Homo sapiens: one gene and its partners. The protein of the gene in region 3 purifies or fractionates together with the protein of the main gene of each other region. This does not show direct contact. Each region holds a gene or a part of one and is shown on either strand. Other genes may lie near its edges. The genes, in order: DAGLB, ANKRD27, SLC12A8, ACAA2, CRY1, CPT1A and STK40.

Region 1 (3,500 bases), on a different chromosome or scaffold from region 3:
TTTGCAGCTGCTGTTGAGCAGATACCAAGCACAGGCAGTGGCATGAATCGAGGTTGGAATCAGATAGTGAGTGACTTCTTACCACTTTGTATCATGATGGAAATGATCGACGATGCTACTTTTGGAAGACAGTTTGAATAGATGATTGCAGCACAGAAGGGAGCGTCATTCTAGAGCGAGTTCTTCCGCAATTTGAAAATGCTTGTTTTTTTTTTTTCACATGCAGCGTGTCATCTTTTTATATGACATTCTCTGCTAAATGCTGTTAAATTCCATACTGAGATGAGGTAAGGGAGGAAGAGTTCTCTGCTTATCCTGCACACCTGCCAGTCTCTCTTCCCACCTCTGTGCTATCCGACTTGGCACCATTCAGGGCTGGTCCTGGAGCCTGACACCAAGTCATAGCAGCAGCCTCCGTAGAGGGAAGAGGGAAGCGTGTCCCCTCAGTAACTTAAAGAAGTGCTTAAACCTAGTCTTAAGATATCTGGAAGAGGGAAGAAGAGAAGCTGGTTATTTCTAGAGGATGTCGTAATCTACATCACAGGCAGAACTGATGGCTCAGTGGCTGAGTGGCCAGTATATTGTCTTTTTTTTTTTTTTTTTGAGACAAGGTCTCGTTTTGTCACCCGGGCTGGAGTGCAGTGGCGCCATCTTGGCACAACCTCCACCTCCTGTGTTCGAGAGATTCTCCTGCCTCAGCGTACTGAGTAGCTAGAGTACTACAATAGCTGGGATGACAGGCACCTGCCACCACGCCCAGCTAATTTTTGTATTTATAGTAGAGACAGGGTTTCACCATGTTGGCCAGGCTGGTCTCGAACTTCTGACCTCAGGTGATCCGCCCACCTCGGCCTCCCAAAGTGCTGGGATTACAGGCGTGAGTCATCGCACCTGGCAGTATATTGTCCATTCTTACGGGCTACAAGTACCCGGAGGTGATTGAGAATTCCTAATTCCTCCATTTCCTGGAGAAAAAGGACATGTCAGGCCTAAGAAGACTCACTCTCTGTTGCTTTCCCAGCTTGGGGTCCTTTATGAGGCTTGCCATACCCTGTGAGTATGAGTTTAGTCTCATAAATCTCTACCATCCACTGTGTTTCAACAAAACCTTCCCAGCATCTTGAGAAATGAGAGTATAAACGTGGGCTAAAATGGTGCATTGCTACAAAAACGGACAATTTATCCATTGATTTCTCCACTTTACAAAATATTTGAAGTAGATTAAAAATAGTTGAGTCACATGAAGTGAAATTTTAAGACAGACGAATAGCATTTTTATATTCTCCAGTGGACTTGTCTGAGGGCAGGATGTGAAAACATATTCAGGTCACATAGAGAAGCACTCCTGCCAGGAGCAGTCTTTTTAACATACCTCTGTGTCTAGAAATGTCTGTGTGTGCGTGAATGCCTATCAACTATAGAAGACTGGATTTTAGGGAACCCGGGGGTGGTGCCTGCTGGGTTTTATGACAGGCCATTGTGGTTTCCCACCCAGGACACAGATCTGGTGCCCAGCGACATTGCGGCGGGCCTCGCCCTGCTTCATCAGCAACAGGACAATATCAGGAACAACCAAGAGCCTGCCCAGGTGGTCTGCCATGCCCCAGGGAGCTCCCAGGTGAGCCTGGCTTCATGGAGTGTCCAGTTCTGACACTTACACCTTTTGGTGGGTCTTCAGAATCATACAGCTAACCTATAGCAATTTCTTCCTCCCTTCCTTCATTCCCCTTTCCCCTCCCTCCCCTCCCCCTCCTCCCCTTCCCTCCCCTCTCCCACCTTTTTTTTTTTTTTTTTTAAGACGGAGTCTCGCTCTGTCGCCCAGGCTGGAGTGCAGTGGCACAATCGCGGCTTACTGCAAGTTCTGCCTCCCAGGTTCACACCATTCTCCTGCCCCAGCCTCCTGAGTAGCTGGGACTACAGGCGCCTGCCACCACACCTGGCTAATTTTTTTTCTTATTTTTAGTAGAGACGGGGTTTCACCGTGTTAGCCAGGATGGTCTCCATCTCTTCACCTCATGATCTGCCCACCTCAGCCTCCCAAAGTGCTGGGATTACAGGCGTGAGCCACCGTGCCCAGCCTCCCCTCCCCTTTTTTTCTTTTTCTTTTTATGAGATGGAGTTTTGCTCTTGTTGCTCGGGCTGGAGTGCAATGACACAATTGGCTCACCACAACTTCCACCTCCCGGGTGATTCTCCTGCCTCAGCCTCCTGAGTAGCTGGGATTACAGGCGCATACCATCACACTCAGCTAATTTTTTGTATTTTTAGTAGAGATGGGGTTTTGCCATGTTGGCCAGGCTGGTCTCAAACTCATGACCTCAGGTAATCTGCCTGCCTCGGCTTCCCAGAGTGCTGGGATTACAGGCATGAGCCACCACACCGGGCCTATTTTTCATTTTTTTAACTTTTATTTTAGGTTCAGGGGTACATGAGCAGGGTTGTTACACCGGTAAACTCATGTCACGAAGGTTTGTTGTACAGATTATTTTGTCACCCAGGTACTAAGCCTAGGACCCTACAGCAGTTTCATTAGCAGCAGGGTTGGAATCTGATTGGCGGCTTCCACTGGTTGTATTGCATCACCTGTCAGGTGAGGCATCTTCGTTATCAACTGGAGTTCAGGTAGTGGGAACCCATTCCTGGCCACTTTATCATCCATCATATCTTTATTTTTTATTTTATTTTTTGAGACAGAGTCTCTGTCACCCAGGCTGGAGTGCAATGGCATGATCTTGGCTCACTGCACCCTCTGTCTCCTGACTTCAAGCAATTCTCCTGCCTCAGCCTCCACAGTAGCTGGGACTACAGGCGTGCACCACCATGCCCAGCTAATTTTTGTATTTTTAGCAGAGACGGGGTTTCACCGTGTTGGCCAGGCTGTTCTCAAACTCTTAGCCTCAAGTGATTTGCCGGCCTTGGCCCCCCAAAGTGCTGGGATTACAGGCGTGAGCCACTGCATCCGGCCACATTTATCATATCTTTGAAGGCTTATGTTTTAGGAAATTTGCTGTTCAATTCTATGCATTAGAACAATTCCTCCTGGGATGGGGACTGCGATTCTCCCTGGGTGTGTTTGCTTTCTTCTCTGGGGCTGGGGGCAGAAGCAGTTCAGCTTTGCTTGGTGATAATTTTCCTGCCACAGGTTGTTATGTTTTTGAGAAAGAAAATTGCACGTAGACGGTATGTATCTTCGCTGCTCCGGGTTAAGCCACTCAGTTCTTGACAGCTCGTGTGTGGCAGTGGCATGGAAATGTACTAGTTTCAGGCATCTAGATAGGAAGCGCCGGCTCATTTCAGCAAAAACAGCAGAGAAGTCATTGGAGTGTTTTTTACTGTTAACTTCCCCGTGCTTGCTGTGTTCCTATAAAATGAGGAGTCAGGCTGGGCGTGGTGGCTCACGCCTGGCTTCCCAGCACTTTGGGAGGCCAAGGCAGGTTGATCACCTGAGGTCGGGAGTTCGAGACCAGCCTGGCCAACATGGTGAAACCCCGTCTCTACTA
Region 2 (3,500 bases), on a different chromosome or scaffold from region 3:
ATTCTCCCGTCTCGGCCTCCCAAAGCACTGGGATTACAGGCACGTGCTGCCGTATCTGGCTAGAGTTACTAATACCTTGTTTTGGTCATGTTCTGAAATTGCTGGGCATTCTTTTCCCCCTGGACCTGACATCTGATCAGGACGCTGTAAAGGAGCTTGTGCAATGACATTTCTCCCCCAGTGTATGATCTCCCTGATACGTGGTTTCACAAGGTGTGCGGTGGTAGGGAGTTGATATGCTTGTCAGTCCATTTGAATCTCATGATGGCATTGAATGTGTGTTTCCCCTTTGCAGTGAACCTGGAGACCATGTGTGCTGATGATCTGCTATCAGTCCTGTTATACTTGCTTGTGAAAACGGAGATCCCTAATTGGTAACATTTTCTTTTAAGATACTCTTTTGAAAATGGCAGTGCTTGGCCGGGCACGGTGGCTCACGCCTGTAATCCCAGCACTTTGGGAGGCCAAGGCGGGCGGATCACGAGGTCAGGAGATCGAGACCATCCTGGCTAACACGGTGAAACCCCGTCTCTACTAAAAAATACAAAAAAATTAGCTGGGCATGGTGGTGGGCACCTGTAGTCCCAGCTACTCAGGAGGCTGAGGCAGGAGAATGGCGTGAACCCAGGAGGCGGAGCTTGCAGTGAGCTGAAATCGCGCCACCGCACTCCAGCCTGGGCGACATAGCGAGACTCCGTCTCAAAAAAAAAAAATGGCAGCACTGCACTGTGGTAGTTCTAATGTAACTCTAGGAAAAGCCCATCTTCAATTGGACACCTGTTACGAGCTAGGTGTGGGGCCTCCCCTTGCTTCATCCATCCACTTACAGATGGGGAAACCAAGGCCCGGAGAGCTTACATTTCTTGTTCTGGAATGAGTGTCTAGACAGTGGTTGAGCAGAAAGCTGATTGCCATTCTTTCTGGCCCCAAAACCCATAATCTCTCCCCTGGAACCCACAGCTCAGTTTACGGTAATCAGCTTGCTAAAGACTATTTCAGGGAACTAGCTAGTCATTTTACTTGTGTTCCTAATCGCACACACTCTGCAGAGAGATCCAGGGGATGGTGGTCGTAGCTTCCTGAGCGAACCAACTGACTAGATATTTGATCAGTTGCCCAAGCCAATGATATTTTTTTTGCAGAAGTGTGACTTGGATAGACAACAACATAACTTTTTTCTTCCTTTCATTAGGATGGCAAATTTGAGTTACATCAAAAACTTCAGGTTTAGCAGCTTGGCAAAGGATGAACTGGGATACTGCCTGACCTCATTCGAAGCTGCCATTGAATATATTCGGCAAGGAAGCCTCTCTGCTAAACCCCCTGTAAGATCTCACCCCTGCCCTGGCCTTCCTTTGTGGGCATCATGGTTCCCTTGATAGGGTGCTGGGGTTGGTATGTGGGCAGACGGATTCTTAAATTGCCTCCCAGGAATGGGGCCTCAGCTGTTTGAGGGCTGTGAGTCTTAAAAATCACTCAGTGAAGAGAACACCAAGCCCTCAATTGGTGGTAAAAATTGGTGGGTTATCATTGGGATTTACATTGTTAATATCCTACTTCATTAGTCCCCATCCTCTCCAAAGACATGTGGGTGCAAAGGGAAGCCAGAAGTAGGGAATTTGGATTTCTTGACCTTGATAGTCAAGAAGTGATGTCACGGGATCCCTGGACTGTCGCTTTTCCAGCCGGAAACCTCTGTGGCTGGTGGCTCCTTTGCCTGAGTTTTGTTCGGGCCTGCTGGGCTCATTTCACGCTCTTGGCCTGGCAGGCTGCGCTCGGCTTGTGCTACTGGCCTGGATCCCATGCCTGCCAAGGGCGAGCCAGGTGTGGAGTGGCGAGGGGTATGTGAGCAAGTGCAGGGTCTGGCCACTGCACACAACCAGGTGTGCCGACTGAGGTGGGGTGGGCAGCTCCAAGTTGCTTGTACAGGGTCCTGCTCCATGCAAGGCTGCAGCTAGAGCAGGCGTACTGTAGGCCGCTTCCACGGTGGGCACTGGGGAACACAGTGGGGCCTGGAAGCTTGGAGACACCAGGAACTGCAGAGCCCCAAAGAGGGTGTCATAGCCCTGGCTCGGGGAACTCCTAGGTTGGGCTCCCTGAAGGGCCAGAGCTCTTCTCTCCTCTCGTCACCTGCAATGTAGTGAGTCGGGAGCATGTTTTAGCTCTCTTTATGTTACAGCTCTTTCAGTCCTGCCATTTGGTGGGTCCCGAGTTCTTGTCCCATGTCGAGGAAGAATGAGGTACGTAGACTAGTGGAGGGTGAGCAAGGCAGAGAGGAGCTTTACTGAACGGCAGAATAGCTCTCAGGAGACCCACAGTGGGCAGCTTCTTTCCACAGGCAGGTCGTCCTGACGAGTTAAAGAGGCCTGACGTAGGTAGCTCCTTCCTGCAGTTGGTAGTCCCGACATCTGTCTGAGTCTGGCTGAGTCCGGGGTTTTTTATGGCTCAGAAGGGAGGGAGTATGTGCTGATTGGTCCATAGGTGGGCCTGGAGAAAGCACCATGAGTTCTCAGTCTGGGTCGTGGACTCCACTTGGGACTGACAGCCCGGCCCCCAGGCTTTAGGCTGTCCCTGTCTTGAAGGTGGGGCTTCACTGGGCACCTGCACCTTTCCACCCAGAAGCGTGTCTGCCTTCTGCCACCATCAACATGCTGGCCAGTGCATCCAGGCTGTTTGTGCCAAGGGGCATCTGCAGGCCTGCACTGAGCTGCCCTCAGCCCCTACCTTGACTACTCTCCCATGCTCATCAGCGCCCAAAATCTTGGAGGGGTCTGAGGCATCAGGAGGCTGGTGTGTCAGTGTCACACCAAGCATGTGCACACATGGCTGGGTTGCAACAGTACCCGGGCTTGGCCTCAGCTTTGCTCTGAAATTGAAGTCGGTGCCAGGAGTGGGGAGGAGCGGGAGCAGGCACTTACGAGCCTGCGGCGGCAGGGATGCTTCCTGGGCCCCTGAGAGTGCAGAGATTCCTGGATCCAGAGCTGCGGCTGGGCGGCTGCAGCTGCGCCTGGGAGTGCAGGGCTCCCGCCCTGCCAGCTCAGTAGGAGATGGGGGCTCCTGCCTGTTCCTGGCTCCTGTTGGCCCTGCAGAGTGCACAAACCTGGCCGCGCTTCCTCCACTGCAGCTTACGTCTTTGCAGCAGCCACTCCCGATGGGCTGCCACTGCCATCTGTGAGACCATTAATGTGTGCAATTTGAGGACTCAGTGGCCTTGCCATTGTTTCCTTGGTTTTTATTGAGCATTGGCTGGGGTCGGCGAGGGGATGTGATTATATTTCTATGTGAATCGTGAGAATCTTGAACCATGGTTGTCCTGCTGGCCTGTTTTACTACATACCAATGAGTAAAATGTGATCATACAGAAATCACAAAGTTGAAATCTATAAAATGAAAAGATCTCTGTATTATAAGGTGAGAGTGCCAAGGATTGAACATTCATCTTTGTCAGACTTTGATGTAGAATCTCCCAAAATAATGATGAGCTAAAGCGTCTGGGAGAC
Region 3 (3,500 bases):
AAAAACAAAGCAGGGTAGCTATATTAACATTAGGCAAAGTAGAGTTTGGAGAAAAGAATATTACAGTGATAAAGAGGGTGATTTCATGAAGCTGAAGGGAAAAATACATCAGGAAGACATAACAAAGCTTAACATTTATGCACTTAAAAACACAGCTTTGAAATACACAAACCAAAACCTGATAGAACTACAGGAAGAAATAGAAAAGTTCACAACCATAGTCAGAGATTTCAATACCTCCTTCCTAATAATTGATAAATAAGTATACAATCAGTAAGTCTACAGAAGACTTGAATAACACTATCAACAAACCTGGCTTAATTGACAGTTAGAGAACATTCTACCCCAAAACAGCAGAATATATGTTCTTTTCAATTATACATGAAACATTTACCAGGAGAGACTATATTCTAGTACATAAAAAATATTTCAATAAATTTAAAAGTATTCAAGTCAATTCAAGAACAGAGTATGCTCTCTGACCAGAGGGGGAATAATTAGAAATAAATAACAGAAAGATATCAGAAAATCCTTGAATAAGCCAGGCACAGTTCGCACACACCTGTTGTCTTAGCTACTTGGAGGGCTAAGGCAGGAGAATTGCTTGAGGCCAGGAGTTTGAGGCCAGCCTGGGCAAAATAACAAGACTCTGTCTCCTAAATTAAAAATTAAAAAAAGAAAAGAAAATCCCCAAATATTTAGAAACTAAAGAATATTACATAACCCTAATTAAAATACAGAAAATAAATAATCCATGATTCAAAGAAGAAAGCAGAGTGAAATTACAAAGTATTTTGAACTGAATAAAGGTGAAAATGGAACAGCAAAATTGTGGGATGTAGCTAAGGAAAATTTATAGCATCAAATGCTTACGTTAGAAAAGAAGATCATTTGCAAATCAGTGATCCCAACATCCAACTTAAGAAACTAGAAAAAGAAGAGCAAATTAAACCCAAAGTAAGAGCCCAGTAGGCAGAGGTTGCAGTGAGCCGAGATCAAGCCATTGCACTCCAGCCTGGGCAACAGAGTGAGACTCCGACTCACAAAAAAAAAAAAAAAAGAGAAAAAGGTTCTTCAGAATTAGAATAGTCTGATGCACTTCAAACACTTTGAAAGAAATGCACTTCAAACATTTTAAGTCGTGTGTATTAAAAATAATGATTTAGAAAACAGTAATGTTAAGAAGAGGTCCTTATGTTAGCTGACTTCATGGATAGAATATATTTTAATTAACAGTGATTACTTCAGTGATTGCTTCTTTATTTCTTAAAAAGTAGTTTGATCTTAAGAAATTTCAATTATTTCCTAGAAATCTATTCATAGGAAAACATGAAATCAAATTTCAGGCCAATGTCCATCTAAAATTCAAATAATTTAGAATCTAAATTATCACACTTAAGTAGGGTGAGTTAATAAAATATGTTTATTTTCTTCCTTCTGACAATCTCAAAATGTATTAGAAATCTTCTCTTTGCAATTGCAAATGCAGATCTAAAATTTATCTTCCCTTTAGCCATAAGGGCCTAAATGATATTGAGGAAACAGGTTATCAGCTGCATACTGTTGATATTTGTGGAGATTTTAACATAAGCCTCTTAAAATAATGCTATTTTCCTGATCATATATTGAACATTATCTAATCAATCAATTTTCAATCATATGTATGTATAATTTAGGAAAGCATTTTCTAAAATCACATTTGATTTGTTTCTCTAAAGTTATATATAATTTACTATGTGAATTTTTTTAAACCTACACCAAAGGAGGAATGGATTTTTTTCAATTGATAAACCCTATTCAAATCTGTGTGTTTGATGTCAGGATTATTTGGCTAGAATCAACAACAATGTCACTTCAAACTTCAGCTCTAACATTTCTACATGTGGAACTATTTGATTCACTTAACACCTGTTAAAAAAATTCTTAAGTGCCAGATCCTGTGAGGTACTGTGATGATTATAAGGATGAAAAAGACATGTTCCCAATTCTCAGTGTATGGTCTAGTAGAAAATTTTATGGCGTGTATTCAACACTTGTCAGTATGAATCTTAAAAAATTTATCAAAGTTTTTTAATTCTTAAGACTAAAGTTAGCAAGTCTCTGCATTTGTCTTTATAGCACTTTATCCAGTTTTTTGGGAGTGATTTTGGAGTTTGGAAATAAACTTTTGAAGGATTCACATGAGTAAAAGTCCTTAGTAGGCTGCTGTCATGGAAGATTACAATGAAAATTATTTGTTTAGACTGAAAAAGGAAAACATTTGTGTTAATTCTGTGCGTGTGTGTGTATTGGGGTTTGCATTCACCCTATTAAAACTGAGCTTCTAGATGCCTTATGTAGAACCTTCAAAAATGGTTATGTATATGTCTTCCCTGCAGGATCAGCCTCCAACTTCAGCTTTTTCCGGTGGATGAGGTCTCTCTTGCTCCCCTCCTGCAGGTCTGTGCCAATTTGGAGCCAGTACCAGAATGGATGAGTGTCCAGAGTCCTGGGAGGTGCCAAGGGTGTCCCATTCCTGGCTGGGCTTGGGCCTGGATTGTGGCATGGGAACCTAACAACTGGGCACCTCCGGGAGACTCAGATGTTGCTCCTGCGTGCACTCCACCACACTCGGCCCCCAGATTCGGCTCATCAGAAGCTTCCTCTAGGCTCATGTCCTCTTCCCTTCTTATCCTCAGTCATCAAGAACAGAGGCTTTATTTAGAATCTGGTTGCTGGGGTGATAAGTCACTACTCTCAGTGAGTTTACAGTCTAAGACACATTCACATCAATGCATAATCACACACAAGATTAAAGCCCAAGGGAAATGTAACGCCAGGAAGCACATTCTTCCATCTGAGTCAGAGGTAGTTGACATGACTGGGTTGGGGACAGTGCAGAGGCCAAGTATAGAAATAAAGTGGAGATCCTGGAGGATTTCTGTGGGACCTCTATGGTCAGATATACAGGAAAGGAGAAAAAAAACTTTCCTGAGAAATAGAAGCCTCATAGAGAGGGTATATTTCACATGTGCCCTAATCTCACTCCTTCTCCTCCACTCTTGCAGTATCACTGCTTCTTACCTTTTAAGGCCCTGGGATTCTGGGGAATTACACCCACCCTCTGTCCCCTTTCAATATCAGTGAGGAGCTAGAGCTGCAGGCTAGGAAAATCCAGGCAGAACCCAACCGAGTGTTCATTTGGTTGCATTTTGTTGGTTTGTTTTTGAGACTCTAGATGTCCGGGTTGTACTTGCTAATATTTCCACCCTGCATGTTCAGACATTGCTAGTGGATCATGGGATCCTTTCCCATTGATCCCAGATGTAACTTCATAATCCTTTTTTCTCCTCATTTTAAAAATTATGGTAAAATAGGGCTGGGCGTGGTGGCTTACGCCTGTAATCTCAGCACTTTGGGAGGCCAAGGTGGGCAGATCACCTGAGGTCAGGAGTTCAAGACCAGCCTGGCTAACATAGTGAAACCCCATCTCTACTAAAACTACAAAAATTAGTTGGGCA
Region 4 (3,500 bases), on a different chromosome or scaffold from region 3:
ATTTTATTACAAACAAAATAAGAGCCAGAGGCGTATTTTAATAAAACAATTTTCACATTAATTTGTTTCTATAACGATATATCTTAAATAGTGACCTCGGTTTTCCTAGTAATAATTTTAAGAACCATCAGGTTCATAGAGGCTCATTATTTGCTCCTTTTCTGAGAAAGGCAAACAGTGGAAAGTGTTGGAAGAATGAAGTGGTTTCCTTTTTATGAGTCACCTAGATTGAACTAGTTCTTGTAAATCTCTGTTCTTGTTCAGATACATCCATTAATGGGATAAATTTTTCTTTTGCCTTTTTAAAGGGTATGTCCTTTATTATCTGCTGTACATTTATGCCAGGTATTAATATCTGTTGATTTTCAAGATTTATATTGTGTTAAGAATTACTATTCTTAGCCACATGTAGGTAGGGCCTGTTACTCAGGCAAACATGATTGAAACCTTTTAGTTTTCTCCTCCTACATCTTGGTAATGGATACTTTAGCATTTGCTTTACAGTTACTTTAAAAGCATTTCCTTTTGAGACACTGTAAGCTACAGTACAATATTTGTTTGATTTACCATTAATTTGTAAAATCAGTGTGTTTCTTAATACATTGTTTGGGTACGGTAAAAGGAGTTTTTATTACTGTTTGTTTTTAAATAGGAAATTTGTGTTAAAGAAGCTGAAGTTGTTTTATGTGGAGGAACCGAAAGCATGAGCCAAGCTCCCTACTGTGTCAGAAATGTGCGTTTTGGAACCAAGCTTGGATCAGATATCAAGGTTGGAACCATAAAAATTTAAAAGAATTAGTTCTTATTAGCATTATATAAGTACTTTTAATAACATACCTTTTTATGGGAGAGAAAACTAATTTTGAAGCCAATTTCGTTGATGAGGATTGGCAAGATATGAATGATTAGAAGTTTGTAAACTATTTCAAAACTCTATTTTGGTGGTTAGTTTTGACATTTTAACCCATATGAAATTAGATTCTATCTATCTCAGCAGACCTCTAGTAGTATAATTATCCTGTGTAAGTGGCCATAGGCATGGGAGAGATGGAGGAAGGGAAGAAGTGGATTAAAAAGATAGACAAAAGAGTGAATTAATCTCACTACTAAACAATTAGTAATCTGAGTAATTAAATCTTTAACGTGACTTATAGAAGTTTTATTTCTGGGACAGTCTCAGAATAGATTTCTTCATCATCACAGAAAACATCTTTGAATACAGATTATATTGTCCCAAATCAAACAAAAACTGATTCTTTTATCTTTGAGAGCTACAACTTGAGAATGATGGTACAGTACTGATAAAGAATGATGTTTTCTTCTCATTCCCATGTGAAAGGGCTACTGACATTTTATATTTTTTAGCATTTTCTATAGTAATGTTTGACTCACACTGTTCACCCAGTTTCTCACCTGGCCTTTTTGGAAGTTGAAAGGAATGGGACTTAAGAGAATCTATGCGGATTTTAGCCACCAAACACATTTGAGATATCTTTTATGAAGACAGGTCAGTGAGTTAAATGTTGATGAGGCAGCAAAGTGGGGCACACTTACCAGAGACTAACTACTTGAATAATAATTAACAACCTTTCTGTAACTCTGGGAACCTGTCCCAAGATCTTTTCAGCCTCATAGTAACCGATAGAACCAGCTATTCCTGTCACTGAGGCGCAGGATGAAAAAGAAAAACAGATAATACTGTTTATTACAGAGCTCAGGGCTGGTTTACAAAGATGGCTATAAGAAAACATTGCATGAAGACTCATTGTCAGGTTTTCTACAAAATATGACCTTGAGGATTTAATTTTTGATCGTAGGGTAACTTCTGTGATCTCACCATGCACGTCTAGTCCTGTTAGCTGTTCTTAGACCCCCACATTTAGAGAGGGACAGAGAATGTGTGCATTTTATTTTGTGACATTGAATGTTTTCAAAAACATTGCATGTTTTTAAAAAATATCCCATAACTGAATATGAATAGTGGTTATCAGAAAGTCTTAATTTTACTTTTGTTTATTGGAAGTGTTGATTATTTAAAGAAATTATAACATATTACTTTTAAAAGGAAATGCCTTAACAAGTCACTTTATTAATGTCTTTTAATAGCTGGAAGATTCTTTATGGGTATCATTAACAGATCAGCATGTCCAGCTCCCCATGGCAATGACTGCAGAGAATCTTGCTGTAAAACACAAAATAAGCAGAGAAGAATGTGACAAATATGCCCTGCAGTCACAGCAGAGATGGAAAGCTGGTGAGTGAAACTGGAAAGTATCAGTATCTATAGAATAAATATCTATAGGAAATATTTTCATCATTTCTATTATGGTTATATAATATTTACAAATCATACCTTTAAGAATTATTACATCTTTTCATTATTCCTTTGTCTTTAGATGATCAGATATTTTATTAATTATTGCAAAATTAACTAGGAATTTCTCTTTTGAAAAAGTTAGTACTACTTAAAAAGTGGTATTGCTACTTGACCCTAGATGGACCCTTGAGTTTTGTGCTGAACTGGTCCTGTTGTCAGTAGAACATGATGAGGAATACGATACGTTCTGTCAGAGGTGATAGCTCACTGTGGCAACTGGAATATAGAGGATGTCCTCTCCCACAAGCCATATCATAATCATAAGAAGGGGTAATGTATTTGGAAAAGACCCACTGGGTCTTTTATGCTTTCCTTCTGCCACTCCTAATTAAGAATCATTGTACCTAACTCAGAGACTTAGAACTAGTCCGAGACTCTAGTTAGAGTGCCCTGGTGTAGCACAGCAGGTTGCTATAGAGCCGGTCCAAAACAGGCAAATGTGACAGCAGTTCTTTTAGCAGTGCAGCAAGTTGAAGAAATGTGATATTTAAAAAATTAAACTGTTAAAGCAAGTGGAAACTCTTATTTAGGAATATTAAATGCTTGAAGTAATGAGGATAAAGTCCATCTTAGCATTTCAGAAGGATAAGTGGAATAGAGCTGATGCCATCTAACTCGTGTGTTTTTTTACTTATATGTTCATAGTGGAAGAGGATTGGTCTAGAAGTCAAGAGTTATCAGTTCTGTTTCTACTTCTACCACGCACAAGTTATCAAGCTCAGTCATATCATTTATTCACTGAACCTCTGTAAGATAGAGATAACAATATTTGCCTTCCCTATTTATCTAATAAGGTTGTTTTAAAACCAAATAAGGGCATATAAGGAAAGTATTTTGCCAATTGTAAAGTGATATGAAAATTAAGGTTAGTATTATTCCTGACCCTATTTCCAAAGCTATAGATTACTACAGTACATTCTAGTCAGTGGAGGTCAAAGTAGGTAAGATGTTTTACTTATAATTGTATTAGTGATTGCTCCCATAATTTCTTCAGGTTGCCTATCACTATTAAGTTTCAGTTAGATTACTTTGTGGCATAGACAACTTGGTAACTTTTTAATTGCTTATCTCACCAAAAGAAGTTTAAAAGGGGTATTAAGTCCATTTATTGCCATTACATCTA
Region 5 (3,500 bases), on a different chromosome or scaffold from region 3:
TTTTTCTTTTCTCTTTTCTTTTCCTTTCTTTCTTTTTCTTTCTTTCTTTGTTTCTTTCTTTTTCTTTTTCTTAACAGTATTTAACACATTTGACCACACCTTTCTCTTCTTCTCTTGGCTTTAGTTAGACTGCCACCACTGTGGGTCCTGGAGGGCAGTGCCCCTGTTCCCGCTGCTCTACAGTGAGTTCTCTGTGGGGACTGTAACCCCATATTTCCCCTTGGCACCAGCCTAGTAGAATCTCTCTGTAGGAGCTCTGCTGTGGCAGGCTTCTGCCTGGACAGCCAGACTTCTTGACATATCTTGTGAAATCTAGGTGGAAGCTGCCAAACCTCCATGGATCTTGTATTCTGTATACCTGCAGACTTAACACCACTTGGAAACCATCAAGGCCTATGGTTTGCACCCACTGGAGTGGCAGTCCAGACAGTACCTGGGGCCTTTTGAGCCCTGGCTGCAGCCAGAGCAGCCAGAACGTGGGGAGTAGCATCTCAAGACCGCACAAGGCAGCAACACCCTGGGCCTGGCCTCCCAAACCATTTTGCCCGAGGAGGCCTCTGAGCCTGTGATGGAAGGGGTAGCCTTGATTTCTGGAATGTCTTGGGGGCTTTTCCCCATTGTCTTGACTGTTAACAACTGGCTCTCTTTTATTCATGTTAATTGCTTTAACAACCTGTTCTGTCAGGGCCTGGTACCTGGGGCTAGGTAGTTTGGATTTCTCTCCTGAAAACTTCCCTCTACCACATGGTTAGGTTGTAAATTTTTCAAATTTGTATGCTCTGTTTTTCTCTTAATTATTAGCTTTAACTTTGTCTTTTTTTTGAACTCCCATATCTGATAGTAGGCTGTTAGAAGCAGCCATGTCACCTTTTGAACGCTTTGTTGTTTAGAAACTTTTTTTTGCCAGGTAGCTTAAGTCATTACTCTTAAGTTCAGCCTTTTACAAAGTCCTAGGCATGGATACAATGTAGCCAAGTTTTTTGTTAACAAGCATAACATATAATGTGGCCATTTTTTTGTTTTAGTTTTTAAAAATTTTATTTGAGATCTCATGAACGTGGCCTTTACTGTCTATATTTTAATCAGCATTTTTATCACAACCTCTTAACCAGTCTCTAAAAAGTTTTAAAGTTTTTCTTGTGTATGAGGTTTTTTGTTTTTGTTTTGTTTTGTTTTGAGTTCTCTAAGCTCTTGTAAGCAGCTTTAGTTTTTGCTTTTTTTTTAATACTTTAAGTTCTGGGATACATGTACAGAACCTGCAGGTTTGTTACGTAGGTATACATGTGCCATGGTGGTTTTGCTGCACCCATCAACCTGTCATCTAGGTTTTAAGCCCCACATGCATTAGGTATTTGTCCTAATGGTCTCCATCCCCTTGCCCCTCAACCCCTGGCAGGCCCCGGTATGTGCTGTTCCCCTCCCCGTGTCCATGTGTTCTCATTGTTCAACTCCTACTTATGGAGAACATGCGATGTTTGGTTTTCTGTTCCTATGTTAGTTTGCTGAGAATGATGCTTTCCAGCTTCATCCATGTCCCTGCAAAGGACATGAACTCATTCTTTTTTATGGCTGCTTCATATTCCACAGTGTATATGTGCCAGATTTTCTTTATCCAGTCTATCATTGATGGGCATTTGGGTTGGTTCCAAGTCTTTGCTATTGTGAACAGTGCCACAATAAACATACATGTGCCTGTGTCATTATAGTAGAATGATTTATAATCCTTTGGGTATATACCCAGTAATGGGATTGCTGGGTCAAATGATATTTCTGTTTGTAGATCCTTGAGGAATCACCACACTGTCTTCCATAATGGTTGACCTAATTTACACTCCCACCAACAGTGTAAAAGCGTTCCTATTTCTTCACATCCTCTCCAGCATCTGTTGTTTCCTGACTTTTAATAATCGCTGTTCTAACTGGCATGAAATGGTATCTCATTGTGGTTTTGATTTGCATTTCTCTAATGACCAGTGATGATGAGCTTTTTTTTCATGTTTTTTGGCCACATAAATGTCTTTTGAGAAGTGTCTGTTCATATCCTTCACCCACTTTTTGATGGGTTTTTTTTTTTTTGTAAATTTGTTTAAGTTCCTTGTAGATTTTAGATATTAGACCTTTGTCAGATGGATAGATTGCAAAAATTTTCTCCCATTCTATAGGTTGTCTGTTCACTCTGATGATGGTTTCTTTCACTGTGCAGAAACTCTTTAGTTTAATTAGATCCCATTTGTCAAGTTTGGCTTTTGTTGCCATTGCTTTTGGTGTTTTAGTCATGAAGTCTTTGCCCATGCCTATGTCCTGAATGGTATTGCCTAGGTTTTCTTCTAGGGTTTTTATGGTTTTAGGTTTTACATGTAAGTCTTTAATTCGTCTTGAGTGAATTTTTGTATACAGTGTAAGGAAGGGGTCCAGTTTCAGTTTTCTGCATATGGCTAGCCAGTTTTCCCAGCACCATTTATTAAATAGGGAATCCTTTCCCCATTTCTTGTTTTTGTCAAGATCAGATGGTTGTAGGTGTGTGGTGTTATTTCTGAGGCCTCTGTTCTGTTCCACTGGTCTATGTATCTGTTTTGGTACCAGTACCATGCTATTTTGGTTACTGTAGCCTTGTAGTATAGTTTGAAGTCAGGTAGCATGATGCTTCCAGCTTTGTTCTTTTTGCTTAGGATTGTCTTGGCTATACAGGCTCTTTTTTTGGTTCCATATGAAATTTAAAGTAGTTGTTTCTAGTTCTGTGAAGAAAGTCAATGGTAACTTGATGGGAATAGCATTGAATCTATTAATTACTTTGGGCAGTATGGCCATTTTCATGATGCTGATTCTTCCTATCCATGAGCATGGAATGTTTTTCCATTTGTTTGTGTCCTCTCTTATTTCTTTGAGCAGTGGTTTGTAGTTCTCCTTGAAGAGGTCCTTCACATCCCTTGTAAGTTGGATTCCTAGGTATTTTATTTTCTTTGTAGCAGTTGTGAATGGGAGTTCATTCGTGACTTGACTCTCTATTATTGGTGTATAGGAATGCTTGTGATTTTTGCTGATTGATTTTGTATCCCGAGACTTTGCTGAAGTTGCTTATCAGCTTAAGGAGTTTTGGGGCTGAGGCAATGGAATTTTCTAAATATACAATCATGTCATCTGCAAACAAAGACAATTTGACTTTCTTTCTATTTGAATACCCTTTATTTCTTTCTCTTGCCTGATTGCCCTGGCCAGAATTTCCAATACTATGTTGAATAGGAGTGGTGAGAGAGGGCATCCTTGTTTTGTGCCAGTTTTCAATGGGAATGCTTCCAGCTTTTGCCCATTCAGTATGATATTGGCTATGGGTTTGTCATAAATAGCTCTTATTATTCTGAGTAACGTTCCATCAATACCTAGTTTATTGAGAGTTTTTAGCATGAAGCGGTGTTGAATTTTGTCCAAGGCCTTTTCTGCATCTATTGAGATAATTGTGTGGTTTTTGTCATTGGTTCTGTTTATATGATGGATTACATTTA
Region 6 (3,500 bases), on a different chromosome or scaffold from region 3:
TGTGCAAAGGTGAAGAATATGCATGGGAGATACAGGGGACACCGCTCCTGTTGTCTTAGGGACATTTGTGGGAACAATATACTGGTACGAAGAGGAGGTTTAGGATGTCCTTTGGGCAGGTGCAGGTCTCCTCCTTGCAGTCTGAGCTCCTGCCCGAGTGCCGATGCTGGCTAGAGGCAGGGCAGGCACAGTGGGAAAGAAGTAGCAGCTGTTAAACTTCTGGTGGGCTTCTGAATAGCTAGGTCAGATAACTGGGTCTGTCAATACGTTGGCTATCTTCTTTATAAAATTGTGAATCTTTGTGGCTTTTCCAAATTTTTTTTCTAAGATCATATTTGTCTGTATTTATCTAACCATTACTTATTGACGTGGTGCACTATAAGGTCTAAATTTGAATTGGCTTAATTTTTTTTTTTTTGAGATGGAGTCTCGCCCTATCGCCCGGGCTGGAGTGCAGTGGCGCAATCATGGCTCACTGCAACCTCCGCCTCCCCAGTTCAAGCAATTCTCCTGCCTCAGCCTCCCGAGTAGCTGAGATTACAGGCATGCACCACCATGCCCAGGTAGTTTTTGTTTGTTAGTAGAGACAGGGTTTCATCATGTTGGCCAGGCTGGTCTCAAACTCCTGACCTCAAGTGATCCACCCAGAATTGGCTTAATTTTTACAGTACTTGGTAAGACAGGGTCTCGCTCTGTCATCCAGGCTAGAGTGCAGTGGCGTGATCATAGCTCACTATAACCTCAAACTCCTGGGCTCGAGTGATACTCGCAAGTAGCTGGGACCACAGGCATGCACTACCCACACCTTGGCTAATTTTTGTATTTTTTGTAGAGATGGGGTCTTGCTACATTGCCCAGATTGGTCTCAAATACCTGGGCTCAAGCGAACTTCCTGCCTTCGCCTGCCAAAGTATTGGGATTACAGGCATGAGCCACCATACCCAGTCCAGAATTCCTTTTATTTTATTATTTTTATTTTTTGAGACGAAGTCTCCCTCTGTCACCCAGGCTGGGGTGCAGTGGCATGATCTCGGCTCACTGCAACCTCTGCCTCCCGGGTTCAAGCGATTCTCCTGCCTCAGCCTCCCGAATAGCTGGATTACAAGTGCCCACCACCACACCTGGCTAATTTTTGTATTTTTACTAGAGATGAGGTTTTGCCACGTTGGCCAGGCTGGTCTTGAACTCCTGACCTCAGGTGATCCACACGCCTCAGCCTCCCAAAGTGCTGGGATTATAGGCATGAGCCACCGTGCCCAGCCCAGAATTCCTTTTATAACCTGACGACCCATTATATTGACCCCATAAATGTGAATAGTCCATTATGATAAACTTCAGTACAGGAAATCCACTGTGTGGCCAATTTAAATAATGTGAATATTGAATGATCAGTCATGAATTCAAGACGCAACCTTTCATAATGAAAGCTCCAGGCTGGGTGTAGTGGAGCACACCTGTAGTCCCAGCTTAGGCTGAGGCAAGATGATCTCTTGAGCCAGGAGTTCAAGGTCACGCTCGGCAACAGAACAAGACCCTGTCTTATAAAAAAAAAATAATAATGAAAATCCTTCACCTTTCTTGTACATGAAACCCTCCGAAAAACATAAGGTGAGTCTTACATTCTCACTTCTAAGGTGCTTCCATCAGGTTTGGGAAACAATTTCTTTTTTTTTTTCTTTTTTGAGATGGAGTTTCGCTCTTGTTGCCCAGGCTGGAGTGCGGTGGTGGGACCTTGGCTCACTGCAACCTCCACCAACCAGGTTCAAGCAATTCTCCTGCTACAGGTGCCCACCACCACACCCAGCTAATGTTTTGTATTTTTAGTAGAGATGGGGTTTCACCATGTTGGCCAGGCTGGTTTTGAACTCCTGGCCTCAGGTGATCCGCCCACCTTGGCCTCCCAAAGTGCTGGGATTACAGGCGTGAGCCAACACGCCCAGCCAAGTTTGGGAAACAACTTCTGTTTGTGTGTATACACATTTACTGGAAAAGTACAAGGGCACCATTACAGATGTGCATATCTGCAATTGAATAACGATGTGGCTCATACAGTGCAGAGAGCGCACACCCACACTTGCCTGGAGAAGAGGAGCTGCTGCTTTTCTTCCTTCCCATTATTGCTAATTTTTGCCTGCATCTCAGTTCAGAAGAGCCATGAACTTTACTGCACATGTGTGCTAGTTCTAGGGAACCCCCTGGGCTGCTGCTGTCCTTCCAGAGCCTTCCTGGTACTTCCCTTGAAGTTCTTTGGGCAGCAGTGAGGAGGCCAGGCCAGATTTTTGCCACCTTGGACATCATGCATGTTGTGAAGGTGGTTTCCCCGAGCTGGAGCCAGTCCCGGAGGCTGGCACTAGCTTTCTAGCGAAGCAGAATCTTCCCAGGCATTGGTCACCCGGGCATCCAAGAATGTGTTGTAGATGATGAGATAACTGCCCTGCCCTTCGCCAGAGACACTGCTTCTGACCCTGCCTACAGCGCCTTCTCCAGTTTTTCCAGGGATGAGGCCCATGTCATCCAGCCTCACACTTTCTCTGTTCCTAGAGGCCCTGCCTGGTATTCCTGCTGAGCTAAGCTGTCGCTTCCCATGGGTAACATTTTCTCAGAGGATTTCCAACATAGTTGTTTACCGCTGGAGGAGATGGGCAGCTGTTAGCTAGGTTTGAATAGAAAGCAGAGCCTGCTCCTGTGTGCATGGGCACTGTGCAATGCTAGTGGGAAGACTGCAGCATGTGAATAATTTTACAGTTGGCACTGATGGTGTTTATACTTACTGGAGTTTTATTGCTGGCTGCAATCTCATCATTTTGGTTACAACAGTGACCTAATTTTATATCTGTGTTGTAACTTTAGGAATCCTAAGTAGAACTTTTTGTGTAGTACCTACCACTTTACTTTGGGAGTTAAGAGTATAAGTTTTGGAGTTGGACCTGGGTTTTTGTTTGTTTGTTTGTTTGTTTGTTTGTTTTTGAGACAGAGTCTCGCTCTGTCACCCAGGCTGGAGTGCAGTGGTGCAATCTTGGCTCACTGCAACCTCCACCTGCCAGGTTCAAGAAATTCTCCTGTCTCAGTTTCCCTAGTATCTGGGACTACGGGTGCATGCCACCAAGCCCAGCTAATTTTTTGTATTTTTAGTAGAGACAGGGTTTCACCATATTGGTCAGGCTGGTCTCGAACTCTTGAGCTCAGGTGATCTGTCCGCCTTGGCCTGCCAAAGTGCTGGGATTAGAGGCGTGAGCCACCGCACCTGGCCTGGGCCTGGGTTTGATTTCCAGCCCTGCTATTTGCTGGCTGTGACACTGGGCAAGTTTCTTGACATCTAAGCCCTGGTTTTCTCATTAGTACATGGAGATAGCCCTAGTACCCATTTCCTAGGGTGCTAGTGGGAATTAAATGATCTAATGCTAGTCAAATACATCAATATAAAAATATATATGGGTCACATTGTCTAGCATATGCCAAAGGGTTTGGTAAAAAGAATGTTCTGGGTCGGGCACAGTGGC
Region 7 (3,500 bases), on a different chromosome or scaffold from region 3:
GGCAGGAGAATCATTTGAACCCCAGAGGCGTAGGCTGCAGTGCGCTGAGATCGCGCCATTGCACTCCAGCCTGGGCAACAAGAGCAAAACTCCATCTCAAAAAAAAAAAAAAATTCACGACTTTGACAGCGAGCAATACAATTCACTTTCTGAAGTTTGACTGAATGTTGAGGGCTATGGCTGCTCAGAGGGGCAACAGGCTGCCTGGTATGATTAGAAAAGCCAAGAGCAGGCGATCCCTTCAGAGTGCCCCTCTGTTGGCTTCACCTGCTCTGAATCACCAAGAGCTGGACACGGCAGATCACGAGGGCCAGCAGCCACCAGTGAAAGACTATGTCCATGCATTGAGGGCGTGTTCATTACCTGTCTGCTTATATGTAGGTCTCGAGAAGGGTCTGGTCCACCTCAGGCCTCCCAGGCTCTGCACAAGCCCAGAAGGTATGCAGAAAAAAGGTGTGAAACCATAGCCAACAAAGAAAAAGAAAATGTACCTGCCTTGGGCCCAGCAATGCCAGTTCCGGGGATGGATCCTGCAGATATACTCACACAGGTTCACAAAGATAATGTGCTCAACAAAAGTCCCTATAGAGCCACGTGTAGCAGCAAAAAACAAAACCATAAAAATCAACACACACACACACATGCCCCCAAGGCAGGAAACTATCTAAATGGCCATCCAGAGAGGACTGGTTAACTAATTATGTTCAGCTAGACAATGGATACTATGCAGCCTTTCCGACTAGGTCCACACCTGCTGATAAAGATGTCTATGTTACCAAAATAAGCACACTGCAGGAATATATGTACAACATAATCCTACTTGGGTTAAAAAAGATTATACACACTTTTGAATACGCATAGGCAACTTCTAGAAGAAATTTTTTTTTTTTTTTTTGAGATGGAGTGCAGTGGTACAATCTCGGCTCATTGTAACTATCACCTCCCCGGTTCAAGCAATACTCTGCCTCAGCCTCCCGAGTAGCTGGGATTATAGGTGCTCACCACCACACCTGGCTTTTTGTATTTTTAGTAGAGACGGGGTTTCACCATCTTGGCTAGGCTGGTCTTGAACTCCTAACCTCATGATCCACTCGCCTCGGCCTCCCAAAGTGCTGGGATTACTGGCATGAGCCACCGTGCCCAGCCTAGAAGAAATTTAAGTGGACACCTCCAGTCAATAGAACTAAGGGCCCAAGGAGGGGAGGGAGAGCTTTATTTTATATTCTCCCATATTATTTAACTATTGTACCATAAACTATTAAACTAACAATACTTTTTTAAAATCTAAAGATTTTCTGAACCCATTAGAATTATTAAGAGTAGTAGTGGAGCCAGGCGTGGTGGCTCACGCCTGTAATCCCAGCACTTTGGGAGGCTGAGGTGGCATATCATGAGGTCAGGAGTTCAAGACCAGCCTGGCCAACATGGTAAAACCCCATCTCTACTAAAAATACAAAAATTAGCCGGGTGTGGTGGCACTCGCCTGTAGTCCCAGCTACTCGGGAGGCTGAGGCAGGAGAATTGCTTGAACCTGGGAGGCGGAGGTTGCAGTGAGCCAAGACCATGCCATTGCACTCCAGCCTGGGCAACAGAGTGAGACTCCGTCTCAAAAAAAAAAAAAAAAAAAAAAAAAGTAGTAGTGGAATCAGGGGAGGCTGAGCCTCAGAGAAGGCAGACTTGAGAGAGTATGGCCTGGGAAGAGGTGTAAGCATAAGTGCCCTGGATGTGTGAGCTTGTGTGCCAATGCAATGGTGCAGCAAAAGAGTGAGAGGCAGAAGGACAAAGACAACACCCCTGCAGCTCTCCAGATAGGCTGCAAACATGCCTATAAGGAACTTCCTGCCTGCCCCCTGGCATCCATAAGGGCTGAAAACTGGCTCAGGATGCCTCTTTTGGTACACTCACAGGTTCACTGCCAAGAGCTCACCTGGGCCTTGCTGGAGCTGGCCCCTGGGTCCTGCCTGCCTGCCATGCACTAGGCTGAACGTGGTAGAGGCTATAAAGCCCTGTGTCTCATGACTACCTTAAGGGCAAGAATTGTTATGCCCATTTTACAGAGGAGGAAGCTGGGGTTGGAGACAGGAAGTGACTTGTTCAAGGTCACTCACTTCAGGTTCTGAAGCCACATCTGATCTGAGCCTAGGCCCTTAACTGCATGGTTGCAAGTCTCCTTGCCCACTACCCATAGGGCAGGTCAGGGAGGGACCTGTCTCAAGGCAGTGGCAGTTTCCATTTTTCAGGCAAAAAAAGGGACTGGTTCAGCTTTGGGGCTGGCTCTATGAGTCCAAGATTCTATGTGGGCTGGACTCCCTGGGACCAGAGCCTAGCCAGGATGGAGGAAGGGAACATGGGCTTTAGAGTCACACAAATGTGAGTTGGAAATCCCAGCTCTGCCCTTACTGGCTGTGTAATAGTAGACAGTCTTTTTACCCCGCTCTGAGCCTGAGTGTTCTCTGTAAAATAAGAGACAACCCTTACTTCCTTAGATTCAATAACGTATTGCAGTATTACAAAGGACCTGGGAGGTGGTGGGGCTTTTTTTCTTTTTTTTTTGAGACGGAGTCTTGCTCTGTCACCAGGCTGGAGTGCAGTGACACGATCTTGGCTCACTGCAACCTCCGCCTCCTGGGTTCAAGCGATTCTCCTGCCTCAGCCTCCTGAGTAGCTGGGACTACAGCCGTGCGCCACCACGCCTGGCTAATTTTTTGTATTTTAGTAGAGATGTGGTTTCACCATGTTGGCCAGGATGGTCTCGATCTCCTGAACTCGTGATCTGCCCGCCTCGGCCTCCCGAAGTGTTGAGATTACAGGCGTGAGCCACCGTGCCAGCCGGGCCTCCTTTTTTTGCTGGTTTCCTTCCTGTTTTTTCAGAAGGGACCACTCCAGGAGTCAGAAAAGAACACACACTATGAAACTTACCCCAAACTCAGTAATGCTGGAAGCGCCATACTTATTGCAAAAAGTAGCAGGACTCTTGCTCCCCAGGGTTGGCAGATGCCAGCAACAGGATTCCAAAAGCCCCACGGAATGCTGGGCTACACCAGGCCCAAGGTCCCCAAGGCGCTGAACCGAGCTTCTCCCTAGAAGCACTGCTGTCCCCTCAACACACCTCACATCAGCTCTGCCCCAGAGAGAAATGACAAGCACATCAGTCCTGCTCTTGCCAATTCCCACTACAATGACCAGTCCACTCTCTCTTCCTTCTGGACCCTTGCATCCAGACTTCCTAAAGGCTGAAGATCTTCTATCTCTTTTGCCAAGTAGGTGGCAGTGTGTAAACATATTTAGAGGGGACAGCTTTATTCTGCATGCCAAGACCCCTTCTCAGTTTTTCTACCTCTGGTGCTTTCCAACAACTAGAGTTCCTTTGAAACCGTCAGGCCTGTAGACTGCTAAGTTCTGGGGAGCCTGAACTCACACCCAAGACTGACTGTCATGGCCAGGAGAGAATGAACACCGTTGGGTTGTAGCCTCTTTTTTTTTTTTTTTTGAAACGGAGT

What was found.
Region 1: the proteins of SLC12A8 (region 3) and DAGLB purify together in Homo sapiens (affinity purification with mass spectrometry; one large-scale study listed by BioGRID and IntAct). This does not show direct contact.
Region 2: the proteins of SLC12A8 (region 3) and ANKRD27 purify together in Homo sapiens (affinity purification with mass spectrometry; one large-scale study listed by BioGRID and IntAct). This does not show direct contact.
Region 4: the proteins of SLC12A8 (region 3) and ACAA2 purify together in Homo sapiens (affinity purification with mass spectrometry; one large-scale study listed by BioGRID and IntAct). This does not show direct contact.
Region 5: the proteins of SLC12A8 (region 3) and CRY1 purify together in Homo sapiens (co-immunoprecipitation; one large-scale study listed by IntAct). This does not show direct contact.
Region 6: the proteins of SLC12A8 (region 3) and CPT1A purify together in Homo sapiens (affinity purification with mass spectrometry; one large-scale study listed by BioGRID and IntAct). This does not show direct contact.
Region 7: the proteins of SLC12A8 (region 3) and STK40 purify together in Homo sapiens (affinity purification with mass spectrometry; one large-scale study listed by BioGRID and IntAct). This does not show direct contact.

What each region holds. Positions count from the first base shown.
Region 1 is NC_000007.14:6,430,955-6,434,454, reverse strand, and holds part of DAGLB (diacylglycerol lipase-beta), read left to right. Parts: intron 1-1,495; coding exon 1,496-1,618; intron 1,619-3,500.
Region 2 is NC_000019.10:32,637,181-32,640,680, reverse strand, and holds part of ANKRD27 (ankyrin repeat domain-containing protein 27), read left to right. Parts: intron 1-295; coding exon 296-374; intron 375-1,192; coding exon 1,193-1,325; intron 1,326-3,500. UniProt on the Homo sapiens protein: May be a guanine exchange factor (GEF) for Rab21, Rab32 and Rab38 and regulate endosome dynamics.
Region 3 is NC_000003.12:125,087,249-125,090,748, reverse strand, and holds part of SLC12A8 (solute carrier family 12 member 8), read left to right. Parts: intron 1-2,378; coding exon 2,379-2,439; intron 2,440-3,500. UniProt on the Homo sapiens protein: Cation/chloride cotransporter that may play a role in the control of keratinocyte proliferation.
Region 4 is NC_000018.10:49,793,034-49,796,533, reverse strand, and holds part of ACAA2 (3-ketoacyl-CoA thiolase, mitochondrial), read left to right. Parts: intron 1-652; coding exon 653-769; intron 770-2,106; coding exon 2,107-2,254; intron 2,255-3,500. UniProt on the Homo sapiens protein: In the production of energy from fats, this is one of the enzymes that catalyzes the last step of the mitochondrial beta-oxidation pathway, an aerobic process breaking down fatty acids into acetyl-CoA.
Region 5 is NC_000012.12:107,083,550-107,087,049, reverse strand, and holds part of CRY1 (cryptochrome-1), read left to right. Parts: intron 1-3,500.
Region 6 is NC_000011.10:68,831,917-68,835,416, reverse strand, and holds part of CPT1A (carnitine O-palmitoyltransferase 1, liver isoform), read left to right. Parts: intron 1-3,500. UniProt on the Homo sapiens protein: Catalyzes the transfer of the acyl group of long-chain fatty acid-CoA conjugates onto carnitine, an essential step for the mitochondrial uptake of long-chain fatty acids and their subsequent beta-oxidation in the mitochondrion.
Region 7 is NC_000001.11:36,375,925-36,379,424, forward strand, and holds part of STK40 (serine/threonine-protein kinase 40), read right to left. Parts: intron 1-3,500. UniProt on the Homo sapiens protein: May be a negative regulator of NF-kappa-B and p53-mediated gene transcription.